Regions from separate parts of the Homo sapiens genome. Here all the other regions are linked to region 2. Evidence: fine-mapped expression QTL. A gene starts in region 2. Each other region holds a variant in brackets. All regions are shown on one strand. Distances are from middle to middle. Region 1 has its middle 6.6 kb from the start of CCL19. Region 2 holds the start of SIGMAR1 (sigma non-opioid intracellular receptor 1). Region 3 has its middle 9.2 kb from the start of CCL27.

What was found. PIP is the estimated chance that this variant, and not a neighbour inherited with it, causes the effect.
Region 1: its variant is fine-mapped to the expression of SIGMAR1 in whole blood (TOPMed, PIP above 0.99).
Region 3: its variant is fine-mapped to the expression of SIGMAR1 in B cells (CEDAR, PIP 0.95).

Annotation. Positions count from the first base shown.
Region 1 is chr9:34,683,338-34,686,098 of GRCh38, reverse strand. It overlaps a transcript of PHF24 not described here. Among named protein-coding and RNA genes, the nearest start is that of CCL19, 6.6 kb to the left of the region's middle. The variant T/C (reference allele first, on the strand shown) is at 1,503.
Region 2 is chr9:34,636,629-34,639,389 of GRCh38, reverse strand. It overlaps SIGMAR1 (sigma non-opioid intracellular receptor 1), which reads left to right and starts at 1,603. Exons shown (of 4, transcript NM_005866.4): 1 at 1,603-1,843; 2 at 1,970-2,170; 3 at 2,301-2,393. The coding sequence starts at 1,693. RefSeq lists a silencer at 1,364-1,853.
Region 3 is chr9:34,670,493-34,673,253 of GRCh38, reverse strand. It overlaps a transcript of PHF24 not described here. Among named protein-coding and RNA genes, the nearest start is that of CCL27, 9.2 kb to the right of the region's middle. The variant GATGA/A (reference allele first, on the strand shown) is at 1,443.

The DNA.
Region 1 (2,761 bases), 47 kb before region 2:
GCTCTGAGTATTAGCTAATTCACCACTGACGCTTACCAGGTACTGGGCACTGCTTTAAGTGCTATTACCATTCTTATGTTGCAGCTGAGAAAACTGAGGTACAGAGGTTAAGTCGCCTGCCCAGGATAGACAACTAGAAAAAAGGCAGAGCTGGCGTTCCTGTCTGGGCAGTTTGGCTCCAGAATATCTACTCTGAACTATTACACATACCACTTCTCTGAGTTGACCTATCTCCTAATTACAAATGGAGAACAGTACAGCAAGGCCAGATGTGGAGAAGCAGCCCATGGAAATAGGGAAAGCCACTACTTTTGGGTGCTGGCCATGTGCGAGTCTCCAAGCTGAGTCCTTTCTTGGCACTACATCACTGCACCCTCAAACGATCCCATGAGGTATCATTAGTACCATTCTATGTATAAGGAATTTGAAGCACAGAGGAGAATGACCTCCCAAGTCAACTCAACTGGTGAGTGGCAAAGCTGGGATTGCAGTCTAAGCCTGACTGATGGGCAGCACTTGGACTGAGGGCTGGGGGCTGGGAAGTCTAGTTGGGGTAGAAAAGCTCAGCTTGCTAGAAAGAGCTGGGGAAAAAACAAGAGAGGAAGCTGGTGGCCAAAGGTGGGGTCCTAACACTTGAACCCAGACACAAAGACACACCCTAGAGGGCTTCCAGCTTCCTGGGCCTCTGCAGTAGAAGGAGCATCAGCTTCCCCAGAGCCTCAAAGAGGGAGTTTACTCAGGCCTCAGTTTTCCCAACAACAGAGGAGTAGAGAAGGGGATTGGGCTACAGCAATGCCCACCCTACTCCTATTCCCAGGGGAGTATCAGATGCCAGGACCTGGTGATATTGAAAGGAAATGAGGAATGTAGGAAGAGTGCTGGGGATCTGGAGGGTAGGGGTAGAGGCAGGACAAGGAACCTTGTGACAGGCAGGGCTCCTGGAAAGGAGTGGGGCCAGGCGTCTGATCGGCAGGTGGCAGAGGACCTCTGAAGAGCAAAGCATCTGAGGGCAGCAAGGCAGCATCAACTCTCAAAAGGCCCATTTCTGAGGGACACTTCCATCTCCCAAGGGGCCAGGGGCAGGCAGGGCAGGGTTGGAGGAAAACAGCAAGGACAGAACCTCTAAGGATCAGGGTAGATGAGGGAATCAGGCCTCCCCACCCTACTTCTAGGGCCTTTGGGTCTTCCCCGTGGCTCCAGGGGGATGCAGAAGATGTGAGCCACCCTCGGCTCCAACCTGGCAGAGGTGGGAAAGCTTTCACCCCAGCCACAGGAACACTACCATTCTGGGACAACCAGATCTCCTAGGGCTTTTGATCTCAGAATCCCAGTCCCTGGAAATCTGAGCCTAACACAATCCAAACCCCAATCACCACGTCGACCTCATTCCTGCCAAACCATCATTTCAAGGGTCCTCTCCCAAGAGGAAGCCAGCCCTTCTGTCAGGGCCTCAACACTGCAAAGTGCTCATCAGTTGAGGAACCCCCATTCCTGATAGGATG[T/C]CCCAATGCCTATTATGTCCTCATTGCTGACAGGACACCCATTAATGTCAAGGTCCCCCCATTACTATCAAGCCACCATTCCTCTCAGGAAACCCTACCACTGTCAGGAACACTTAAACCTGTGAGGCAGGACAGCAGCACTGCACAACTCCAGGGGGCACCATCCTCTCTGTAGTCTACGTAAATGGCTCCTGGTATGGCAGCACTGAGTGCCAGAGTATCACTCTGAATGTTAGTGTAAGGCCCCCAGTAGTCTCAGCGCTGCCATCACATAGGTTTCCAGCCCTGGGAAAACCCCTCACGTCTAAAGTGATGCCTCATCACTGTCTGCAACCCAGAACACTTATTCATTCCAGGCACTATTCTAGGTGCTGGTGATACGATAGTGAACAAGATAGATATGGTCTTGGTCTTCATGAAGCTTCCCCCTCTCCTCCAAAAACAAAAGGCAAATAAACAAAAGTGTGGATCAGGATTCTTACTTGCAAGCCACTGAAACTCACTGGCTGATTCCAACAGAAAAGGAGTTTATTAAAAAGACCCTGGGAAGATGCAGAAAATAGCGAGAATAAGTGAGCCTAGGCAGCCAGAACCACTCCCAGAGCATACGGTACAGTACAGATGGTCCAGATAGGCCTCCAAGACAGCATGGTGGCACCACCAAAAGGCGATGCCAAGTGGCCAGGACAATGCTTATGTCCAGACAACTGGGGCCCTTGCCCTGCATCCCATGTTTTAGATGACCCTGATCTGGCCCTCCTCTAATCATATCTCTGGACACAGGAAAAAAAAGTCCACAGGACGAAGGGAGCACCCACCCAGAACTCATTCTTTTCTTCTAGACCATATTTCAGGAATTGAAAAACAGAGAATTTCCTGCCCAAATGCCCCCAAGTAGCTTCCAATATCATTATGGGCCTCTTCCTCAGATTTGTTCTTCCTAGGATAGACTATGTTACTGATATACACACTACCAGGTCCAGAGGGTAGCCAAGAAGTAGCTATTTGCAGGGAATGTAGAAGGAGCTTGTATGTATGGGGCTGGAGTGTTTACACCCAGACACGTGAGACCCTTCATGGTGCAGGATAGAACTGTGGATAGGAAGAGGAGAGGGACAAGTGGAGGGCTGGTGATGGGCTCTCCCCTTACCACCTCATTCCATCATGGATCTCCAAGGAGTTCAAGAATTCTCAACTTGAACCTAGCCTCCAAGTTGTTTTGAAAGTATATATTTTGGCCGGGCATGGTGGCTCACGCC
Region 2 (2,761 bases):
GCCAAGGCTGGTCTCGAATACCTGGACTCAAGTGTTCCGTCTGCCTCAGCCTCCCAAAGTGTTGGGATTACAGTTATGAGCCACCTCGCCCGGCCTCAGTTTCTTTCTTTAAGGTCAAAAATGTATGAGGCTACTTTTTTCCAGTTCCTTTATGTTTTATATATATAACCATCACATAAAATTCTCACCATGTGAGGCACTAACTGCTTTATAAATATTAACCCATCTAATCTCATCACAATGAAGATATGTACTATGAGGTAGGTACTTATCTCCATTCCATTTTACAGGTAAGAAAACTAAGTTACAGAGATTTTAAGTAAACTGCCCAAGATCAGACAACTAGTAGGTAGCAGGAGCCAGGCCTTGAACTCAGGCAGTCCAGCTCCAGAGTTTATTTCTTAATCACTGCACAATGCTACCTCTTTTCTCTTTTGTTTCTTTTCCTTTTTGCTTTCTTCTTCCTCTGCCTACCCTTTGCTGTTGGTGCTCTCCAGGGCTCTGTCTTTAGCCTTATCTTACTCTATTCTCTCTCCCTGTGAGATTTCATCCATTCTTAGAGGTTTTCTGTAGACTCTCCAGTGAGATCTCTAAGCTGGGGAGTAGGACCATTGTTTCTAGCCATATCCCTAATGGCCACCACAGAACTTGGCACATACAAGTGCCAACAAAGTATCTGAATGAATGACAACTCCCAGCTCTATCTCCAGACTGGAGCTGAGCTTCGAGACCTGGACACTCAACTGCCCACTAGACATGCAAAGGATGTTAGCCAAATAAGGGGAAAGTGGGGATAGGATAAAGGGGGAAAGAGTATTCCAGGAAGAAGAGATCAAGCCCTGCCAACTCCATTTCCAGAGTTGTTAAGCTCATTTCTTTCTTCCATCTCCACTGACACAGACCTTCCCTCTTACCTGGCCCACAGTCATGGTCTCCCTGACTCATCTTGCTCCCCTCCACTCGACAGTCCTGTGCCACTCGGTGGCAAAATCTAATCCCCTTCCTCCCTTGCTGATAACCCTCAGCTGGTTTACAAGGCCTCCTCTCACATTTTGTGCCGCAGAACAGAGAAGGAATTGTAGGCCCCTGAAGACCCCAAGCTGTCTCTCCTCGGAGGCCTTTGCTCTAGGGGCTGGTCCCTGTGGGCTGGCATGCCCCTTCTGCGAGCTCTTAAAGACACTGCTCAGGTGTCACCGCCTCTGGAATGCCCACCCTGGGGCTCCCAGCTTGAACTGCCTCCTCTCCGCTTCAGTCCTGGTAAAGGCGGGCCTTAACAATCGTTGAGTCCCAGAAGGCTTCACTTCCGGGCTCGTCTGCTTCACCAGCCAGTGAGCTCGGGCGAGCCCGTCCATTCTGGGTCTCACTATCCCCACACCTATCCGTATGTAGAGTGGCGCTAGCTAGGTCAGACCTCGCCTGAAGACCCTGACATCTGCCGCTGGGCGACTTGGCCCCGCCCCCTTGCCTCCCTTGCGCGGCACCGCCCCACTCCTCCGTGCTCCCCCCGAGGAAATGGTTCAACCGAAGGGCGGTGCCAAGGTGCCCGGGCCGCTCCGATTGGTCAGGGCGAGCCGTACCACGGCGGTGGCGGGGGAGCGCTTCGTGGGCAGCCGGCGGGCTCCGAGGCCGTGAGCGCAAAGCCTCAGGCCCCGGCTCCCTCCTGAGCTGCGCCGTGCCAGGCCGCCCGCCGGGATGCAGTGGGCCGTGGGCCGGCGGTGGGCGTGGGCCGCGCTGCTCCTGGCTGTCGCAGCGGTGCTGACCCAGGTCGTCTGGCTCTGGCTGGGTACGCAGAGCTTCGTCTTCCAGCGCGAAGAGATAGCGCAGTTGGCGCGGCAGTACGCTGGTGAGCGGGCAGAGGGCAGGGAGGGGAGCGGCCGGCCTGGGAGCGGAGCCTAGGGTTCCGAAGGCGCCATCCCCGGACCTAGGACCGGTGCCAGCCCTGACTCCGCCGCCCCTCTGCCTCCGCCAGGGCTGGACCACGAGCTGGCCTTCTCTCGTCTGATCGTGGAGCTGCGGCGGCTGCACCCAGGCCACGTGCTGCCCGACGAGGAGCTGCAGTGGGTGTTCGTGAATGCGGGTGGCTGGATGGGCGCCATGTGCCTTCTGCACGCCTCGCTGTCCGAGTATGTGCTGCTCTTCGGCACCGCCTTGGGCTCCCGCGGCCACTCGGGTCAGTGCTAGCGGCGGGCCAGACTGGGAGGCTGGGGTTGTAAAGGGGCCCATGCCCTCCTTTCTGATGTTTGGCTGGGCCATGCAATGGCGCGAATACCCTGATAGTGTCATGTGCGATTGTCACTCAGGGCGCTACTGGGCTGAGATCTCGGATACCATCATCTCTGGCACCTTCCACCAGTGGAGAGAGGGCACCACCAAAAGTGAGGTCTTCTACCCAGGTGGGTAAGAAGGCTCTGTCAGAGAAGTGGGTCCCTTCACGCGGGGGGTGCCCACAATTGCGGGGAGCATGGCATGGAAAAGGAGTGTGTTGGGGGGGCCCTCCTCATGGTTCCCTTCCTCCACCCTCCCATAAGCCACAGGTGATTGGTTGGGGCAGAGCTGAGGGACTCTTGCTTTCCTCTGTCAAGGGGAAACAAAACATAACAACTTCCTATTAAACATGTCTGATTTTTATCTGCCCAGGCACAATTTTGCCCAGACAGTATTCCAACAACTGTTGGGGAGACAATGGGTAATCAGAAATGCTCTCAATACCCCAAAAGACAAGACAGACAGTTATCTTTTTATTTGTTTGTTTTTTGAGATG
Region 3 (2,761 bases), 34 kb before region 2:
CTCTCGAGTAGCTGGGACTGCAGGTACATGCCACCACGACTGGCTAATTTTTGTATTTTTAGTAGAGACAGGATTTCACTAGGTTGGCTAGGCTGGTGTCAAACTTCTGACCCCAGGTGATCTGTCCGCCTTGGCCTTCCAAAGTGCTGGGTTTACAGGCATGAGCCACCATGCTCTGACTAATCTTTTTGTGTAGGGATCTCATTCCTGTCATAGACAGGTTGCTATGGTTTGAATATTTGTCCCCTCCAAAACTCATGCTGAAATTTAATCCCTGGCTGGGCATGGTGGTGCACACCTGTAGCTGTAGTCTCAGCTACTTGGGAAGCTGAGGCAGAAGAACTGGCTGAGACCAGGAGTTCAAGGCTGCAGTGAGCCATGATCATGCCACTGCACTCCAGCCTGGGCGACAGAGTGAGACTTCGTCTCTTAAAAATATATAACAAATTAAAAATAAATAAAAGAAATTTAATCCCAAATGTAGCAATATTGAAAGGTGGGGCCTTTAAGTAGTGATTGGGTCATGAGGGCTCTGCCTTGATGAATGGATGAATCCATCCATGGAGTAATGGGTTATTATGGGTGTGGGACTAGAGGCTTCCTAAGAAAAGACACGGGCTAGGACACTCAGCCCCCTCACCATGTGATGCCCTGTGCCACACCTCACGACCCTGCAGAGAGTCCCCACCAGCAAGAAGGATCTCACCAGGTATGTCCCCTCAATCTTGGACTTCTCAGCCTCCATAACTGTAAGAAATAAATTATTTTTCTTTATAAATTACCCAGATTTAGGTATTCTGTTAAGAAACAGAAAATGGTCTAAGATACAGGTGCTCTTCTAGTAGCAAGAAATATGGCCACTAGAAGCCTTAAGCCTAAATTTTTATATTGATTGATCTAAAAGAGACTCTCTTTCTCCTAGCATCCAAACATCAAATCTCATAGAAAGCTCTGGTTAACTGTACTTGTGATACATACTCAGTTCTTCAGTCTATCACAGTGGCCAGGAAAAGGGGTACTCTGATCAGAGCACTGTAGCTGACAGCCCCACCAAGACCATGTTAAGTGGGAAAGGAGTTTCCTACAGGAACCACAAAAAGGGGTATAGAAAAGTAGAAAAGTGGTCTGCATAAACAAAAACAGCCCACAGCAATCCACTTCATAGATTTGTCATGAGACAATGAATTTAAAGCATTTTGCATGGTGCCTGGCACTTAAGTATCATAAATGTTAATTATTACCATAACTGAGAGACAAACAAATGAAGGGAAACAATAAATGAATAATGGTTGAACATACAGATGAACAGGTCACAATGAATATATGAAAAAATAAATGAAAGATGAAAGAAGGAAGAATGGGCTGATGAAGAGATAAAGATGAGTAGACATATAGACACATGGATGGATGGATGGATGGATGGATGGATGGATGGATGGATG[GATGA/A]GGCAGAAAAATACAGGCAATTAAATCTGCTCCACTATATACTCTAGATCTGGAATGGGAAACAGAATAGCACTCCACAATAGTGTCTTCTGAGAGGTCTATCTCTTGGGTCTGGCAGAACAGTTCTCTGGGTGACCGTACACTGACCCAGTTCTCCTCCCTTTCTCACTTGGAATGCAAAATCTTGAGATAAGGAAGAGGTGACAGAAACAGACAAGGAACAGGCTCTCTTCTAGTCCCACCCCAGAAACAATATCCTTCAATGTTTTAGCCCAGGAATTCACATTGCCCTGGGGTATAAAACCCAAGGCAGGCTGCTTTCTGGAGTCCTTGGCTGCAGTGCAAGTGCAGCATAGGCAGATGAAGCCATCTGCCCTGGGCAGCTTTCCTGAGCCTTGGGGGCTGCCTCACAATTAATCCTGGGATTCTGTTTCCCTTGCTGCCTACCTGAGAGTAATAAATCCATTTCATATAACTTGTTGGATGTGTTCTCCCACTGGACTCAGACAAATTGGCAACCAGTACACAGTAAGCCTGCTTCTCAGGACTCCCTCATTCCTTTCTTTTCCTGTTACTCTGTGAGCAGACCAAACCCTCTCCTCAAAAATCCCTCTCAATTCCCAGGATAGGGAGGCCACGGTAGAGAATGGGCATGTTCTAGGCCAAGTTCTCCTCCAGCTATTCTAACTCAGCTCTGGGGCATAGGAAAATGGGTCAATAAGGGAGAGGGACAGTGCTGGCTGGGCCAGGAAGGTGAAGTCCTAGAGTCCAGAGATGAGAGATAGGGGAGCTGAACCTGCTTCCAAAGAATGTTCCATTTAGCTTCACTTTCCAAGGGAGGAATGGATCTCAGATGGTGGATATATAGGCACTGTGATAGGCCCAGGGAGGTCTGGAGAATCTGGGAGAGGACCTTCTCATCCTTACCCTGCTCTTGTGATTGTCCCTCAGGGAATCTAGTGGGTGGCTATGTCCCATCTTTCCCACTCCTCCTACTCCCAGGTATCTTAGTACTACAGAGAAGAGCTGGCAGTGAGGAACCTAGGGAGGAGACACATTCCTACCTCTGACCCTAATCTTGAACCAAACCCTGACTCCCAGCCTTGAGACTGATGGCTCAAATGCCTCCAAAGGAGCAACATCACAAACCTTGCAAATCTTCCCCTAATGGTAATAGTGCAAACTCTCCTCCCCTTGTCCAAACTGCTTATTGCTGAAATTCTCGGAGCTGAAGCCAAAAAGTGAAAAACAGGTGCAGTCTACTGCGGAGAGTTGTGAAAGAGAAAAGAGTTTCCTCCACAAAAAGGGAGAGAGA